2 separate regions of the Homo sapiens genome follow, and region 2 is linked to region 1. The links come from fine-mapping of genetic effects on gene expression. Tissue or cell type: whole blood. Region 1 holds a variant in brackets; the other region holds the start of a gene. All regions are shown on one strand. Distances are between the middles of the regions.

The links. PIP is the estimated chance that this variant, and not a neighbour inherited with it, causes the effect.
Region 2: NCK2 starts here. The variant in region 1 is fine-mapped to the expression of NCK2 in whole blood (TOPMed, PIP above 0.99).

The regions. Positions count from the first base shown.
Region 1 is chr2:105,766,551-105,769,455 of GRCh38, forward strand. The region is part of intron 1 of NCK2 (NCK adaptor protein 2); the gene reads left to right. Among named protein-coding and RNA genes, the nearest start is that of NCK2, 23 kb to the left of the region's middle. RefSeq lists an enhancer at 2,683-2,905. The variant G/A (reference allele first, on the strand shown) is at 1,728.
Region 2 is chr2:105,743,546-105,746,450 of GRCh38, forward strand. It overlaps NCK2 (NCK adaptor protein 2), which reads left to right and starts at 1,367. Exons shown (of 5, transcript NM_003581.5): 1 at 1,367-1,593. RefSeq lists silencers at 1,018-1,337, 1,528-1,587, 1,698-2,087 and enhancers at 2,458-2,527, 2,628-2,677.

The DNA.
Region 1 (2,905 bases):
GGCCTTAAGGGATCCTCCCACCTCAGCCTCCCAAAATGTAGGGATTACAGACTTGAGCCACTGTGCCTGGCCTAGGTTTTCTTTTTCTCCACTGCTTTGTATCTGTTGACTTGTCACCTTTCAGGGTAGTCTGTGAGGGAGAATCCTGGCGGGGGCGGGGTCTGCAGGTGAACATCGAACCAGCCCTGGCTCTGTCCCCAGACCTTTCCTTTACTCGGCTATCCCTCCATCTTGTGGGCATGCAGGATTTTCGTTCCCTCCAAACTATTTCCATCTGTAGTGAGTAGTGTTAGTTTGACTTACAAATTAATATTTAAGCCATCAAATTAGTTTAGTAACTGGCTGGAGGCTTCTGGCTCCGTCTTCCTGCTGCCTGTGCAGTGTTGGTGAAACTCAGGAGTGAAGAGAAGATGTGAAGAGACACGCTTGGGAGGAACTCTTCTCACCTGAGGACACCTGCCCAGGTGTGTCACACCTACTCTTATGGTCAGCTACTCGTATGGTCAGCCAGGTTCAGGCCCACACACACCAGTGCTGGGTTCCTGGTGCCTGCTTATCTCTCTGGAGCCAGGGAGGCTCCGACCTGGAAGCCTGGACCCCCGTCTGTGTTTATCTCATAGATACCATTCCATATTCCCAGGTATATGCTTGTAATGTTATTCATGTCACACATACATGTCATGTCATTGAACCAAATGCAATTTGCTGTTAATGTAATACTGCTCGTGACGTGGCCTACTTGGATGTCTGATATGAGCTTAGAAGCCTAACAGGAAGTTCACCTGCAAAATTGGACCCTCCCTATTCCCTTGTTTCCACAATAACCTAGTTAGTATTTTGTGAAAGGTGTTCTTTATAAGTGTTACATTCTGGTGCACTGATGATACAGTAATTGATTTAGGAATATCTGTTACTCTTTGTGGTTACAGTAGAGGTTGGCAAAGTGGCCCATGGACCAAATCCAGTTCACCTGTTTGGGTGTGAATACAGTTTTATTAGAACCCAGCTGGGCTCATTCATTTCCACAGCATCTGTGGCTGCCCCATGTTGCAACAGCAGAATTGAGGAATTGTGACTATGTGGCCCACAAAGCCTGAAATATCAGGCCTTTTCCAGAAGAAGAACCGCAGCCCCTAGTGTGCAGCAAGGAACAGAAATCAGGAGAGCTGCATTGGAGTCCCTGCTTTGTCCCTTTATTGGCGCGAGGTTTGAGGTTTCCGTGCCCGCACCTGGGAAAGGAGGAGGAGGATACCCATTGTCTCAGGGGATTGCTAGCATGAAATTGTGGGACATACTGGGTGGTTCCCAGCACTTAATATGCACTTAATAAATACTAATTCCTTCCCTCTCTATTACTCACATCCCCGGCTCTCATCCTTAAGTAGTTGCTGTCTTTCTACATGTGAAAAATTTGAGACAAAAAAATGGACATCAGTACTTGTGTTTTCAGAAATGAAGACATCTCAAGCAGCACTGTCCAGCAGAAATAGAACATAAGCTGCCAGTGTGTGCTAGATGTGTAACTTCACCTCTCCCAGTAACCACATGAAAAAGGCTACAAATTTTAAGTCTTCTGTAGTCCAACATAACCAAAATATTTCAACATATACTCAAATAATTGCTAATGCCATTCATTTGCTTTCTTTGCCTGTCTGTAGAGTCCAGTGTGTGTTTGCCCTCACAGCAAGACATAGCTGGACTCACCACCCCTTGAGTGCTCAGTGGCC[G/A]CGTGTGGCCGGTGGCTGTGTTATCAAACAGGTCTCTGATTCTCTGACACCACCTAGGTGTCCCCTAATTTGGTTCAGTTCTGACACTAGCTTTTCAGGGTTCGTGCCGGCCTCACAAGTTTTGAGGGCTAAGTCCCACAAGACCATCCCCATTTCCGTCACCAGTTGCATGTCCTAAGCCACCTGTACTTCTGATCAACTGGCTGTAAATTGGGGTTCCCATGACCTCACTTCAGGTTCCATAATTTGCCAGGACAACTCACAGAACTCAGAAAGGCACTTTGCTTATTGTTAGTGGTTCCTATAAAGCTAGGTTGTCCAACCCGCGGTCCAGGATGGCTTTGAATACGGCCCAACACAAATACTTAAACTTTCTTAAAACATGATGAGTTTTTTTTGAAATTTTCTTTTTCTCATCAGCTGCAGTTAATGTTAGTGTATTTTATGTATGGCCCAAGATGATTCTTACAGTGTGTGTGGCCCAGGGAAGCCAAAAGATTGGACACCCCTGTTTTAAAGGATGCAACTTAGGAACAGCCCAAAGGAAGTGACACATGGGACGAGGGGTGGGAGTCCCCATGCCCCCTGGGGGAGACACCTCCTAGTGCACCATCCCAATGAGTTCATGACGTGGAGGCTCCCCACATCCCATTTTTCAAGAGTTTTTGCAGCCCAGTCTCCTGGCCCCCCACCCCTCCCAGAGGTTGGGGTGTAGGGGGTGCAGAAAGTTCCCACTCTCTAATCACACGTTTTGTCTTTCTGGCAATGACCAGCTCCCCTCCAGGCTATCTAGGGGCACCCCCCAACCCCACTGGTCACCTCATTAGCATAAGCTCAGGTGTGGTGCACTGGGGCTCTCTATGAATCACTAAGGGCACTCTTGTTGCTCAGTAAATACCAAGGGCTTTAGGAGCTCTATGCCAGAAACCAGGGACCAAGACCAGAGATCTTTTTTATTATCCACCTGGGCAGCCCTGTCAGCCTGCTGCCCCGCCCCACCCCTCCCCTCCCCATCCCCAGCTGGCTGCGCCCTATTTAAAGCCCTCCTCTCAGTAAAACAGCTGATGCGTGCCTATTTTACATTCTTTTCTACCCTGGGTCTGACGAATCATGACTCTCACTGTGCTGGTAACTCCCCCGTTCTTGCTTCTCAGGAAGCAAATGTAGGAAAAATATAG
Region 2 (2,905 bases), 23 kb before region 1:
GCTCAGTGTACTGTGCTTCCTTCCACTTACTGAGCTATTGAGGGCTACCTACTGCCAGGGTACTTCACATAGGAGGTAAGTAAATATTATCTCCCCATATGACAGATTTTAGAAAGGCTGAGGACCACCTGTGCAACGTTACACAGTTCAGGAAGTCAACAGTCAAACACTCACCTGTCTGACTTCAAAGCTACGCTGACTCTAGTTACCTATCCTTGGGTACTTCCCTTCTGGAAGGAAGCAGGAGATGAGTGAATCAAATAATACAGCCTTGTAACCTTGGGTAAATTATTATTGCCTTAATAGTAAGCAGAGACCAGGAGCCTAAGAAAGAATCTCATTAACATGGATGCAGGCTATCCTGCCAGGAAATCAGAATCATTTGAATATTAGGATTTCCTTTGGGAAACCATATGGGGAGGAGAAAAGACATCCGGATGCATGTGTCTGTGAAAGGGAAACTTGTGTCTTTCCCCTTGCTCTTGGGTTTTCATCTTCCAAGTTTGTTTATAGGCTAGCCACAACTCGAGGCTGGGTGAGCTGAACGGTCCCATCATTAGCGACACTCCTTCTAGGGGCACATTCGGGCAGCTCCTCTTCGGGTTCTGCCCCCACGGGTGTGCAACCAGGATTCCACAGGCTGGGGCTGGCCTGGATGCCTGGGAGGCAACAGAGGTCGAGTTTCTTCTTCTTTTAGGAAGTGCCTCGGACAGGGATGATGGACTAAAAATGTGTCTGGTTGGGAAAGTAAATAGATGCAAAGCAAATAAATAAAAATGCCCACAAGCAATTACAGGGAGGAAGTGACATTTTTATTTAAGTCACTTTTCTGATGGACAACAGGCCTGCTTAGCTGAGTGCCGTGGGAATGCTTCCGGGAGGGGGGCGGCTGCCCAGCAACTAGAGCTTCGTGATAAGAACAACGAACAAACAAAAAAGAGGACGCAAAGCCCACCCGGCAGTCATCCCAGGCTGGAAGTTGCCGTCTGTGTTTTCACTCTCCTCCCCACCCACCTACCCTGCCCCCCACCGCCCGCACGCAATTTCGGGCGTGGGGACCCTTTCCTGCCCCCGGCGCCCGGCCCGTGCTGCGCCTCCAGAGCGGAGCGTCCCGCAGCCCCGCGCTATCCCGGCGCCCGTACCGGGACCCGGGCGCGGAGCCTGGCGACGACGGGGGGCGCCCCAGGTGGGTCTCGGGTCCCCGCCCCGCGCGCCCGGGCCTGGGCCGGCCCCTGGGCGGCGTCACGGCGCGGCCGGGGAGGAGCGCGGGAGGAGGAGGAAGAGCGCGGAGGAGGCGGGCGCTGCGCGCCGGGGGAGGGTCGCCGCCGCCGCCGCCGCCGCCGCCGCCGCTGCCGCGGGGATCGTCAGGCCGGAGCCGCGCGGCCGAGCGGGCGGCGGGCGGAGGGGAGGGCTTGGCGGCCGGGAGGCTCGCGGCGCCCGGGCCGGCAGGGTCCGCCCGGGCCGGCAGCGTCCGCCCGGCGGCGGGAGGAGGGAGCGGCGCAGACAAAGAGCGGCGCCTGGGCGGGCGCAGCGCGGCCACCGCCCCGGGACCCGCGCCGCTGCCCTCCGGCTCCGCGGGCGGCCCACGGCGAGGTAAGCGCGGCTAGGCGGGCGTGGGGCGGGGGCCACAAACTTGGGGCCGTTGGGCGGAGTTGGGAGCGCGGCGGGGCTCGCGGGCCGGGGTGCGCCCGGGAAGGGGCCAGGAGAGCGGGTCCCCTCCGCGCCCCTCCGGTGCTCTCGGCCCTGCCGCGGCCTGGGCGCCCCCGACCGCGGACTGCCGGGCACCTCCCGGCTCTGCACCTTCCTGCCCGCCTTCCCATCCCTAACCCCCACCATCGGGGGCCGGCCCAGGGGCGGGGACGCCAGCCAAGGGCGCGGGCGAGGATCAGGGCAGGGGGCCCGGCTGCGGGGCCCGGGGACTGGAGACCCCCGGGTGCGCAGGCTGCGCCTGGCCTGCAGGCGGGCGGCCGGCACGGAGCTCGGGGCTAGCGTGGGACCGTGCGGTGGCCAGGGTCGCCAGGGCGCGTGTGCCGGGGAAGAATAGCCGCGGATCGCAGGGCCCCGGCGCAGGGACGGGGGAGGCCGCGATCGGCCGGGAGAACTTAACCGTGTTTATTACAACTATTTATGTTCGCGCACAAAGCTGCTGTCACATTGCATAAAGGAGGTCCTCGCTTCGGCGAAGGGAGCTTTTGTGCCCGGCTTCAGGCTCTGCGCCCTGCCCCAGATTTACAGGACTCTAACAGCCACCTGAATGAACCAAAGTTTCTCACAATCGCTCGGCTCTCTCGGTTTTTTTCAGGGCGATTTAATCACCGAGTGCTTTTGGAAAAATTTGATATGTGAGTTTTAAGGCATGGAGGGTAACTGCCTTATGAGCACAGTTAGCTTGGCATTGTGTGGAGGGGTTTAATTTGCAAAACGCTTTAATTTGTAGACAATGGGGATCTCTGTGAAGGTCTGCGGTGGATGCTAGGGGTCATTGGCTGGTGGACCCCAGGCACCTGACTTAAACTAGTATTGTAACAGCTTCAGGGACAAAGCCGAGCGTGCGTGGAGTCGGCCTTGGCCACTTCACACAATTCAGGTTGGCAGATTCCTCTTTATTTGGCTTTGTTTATTTTGCCAACAGGTTTAAGGCTGCTTCTGCCAAGTTTGCATCTGCATAATGGGATGAGCAGGCCCCAGTGTGGGCAGGAGGGGGCCTAAAATATCGCAAGGGCCAGCTCCGTCCCTCGACCCAGAAAGAAACAACCCTGAGAGGCCGGTGGGCGTGGCTTGCTGGGACCTACAGGTAGGGGAGTCCCTTCCTGGCCCAGGCGCAGTCCCCGCTTCTCGGAAGGGATTTTGTGTAGGAATGAAAGTGATTCAGGGTGTTTTTCATGCCTCTGTTTTAGATGTAGTT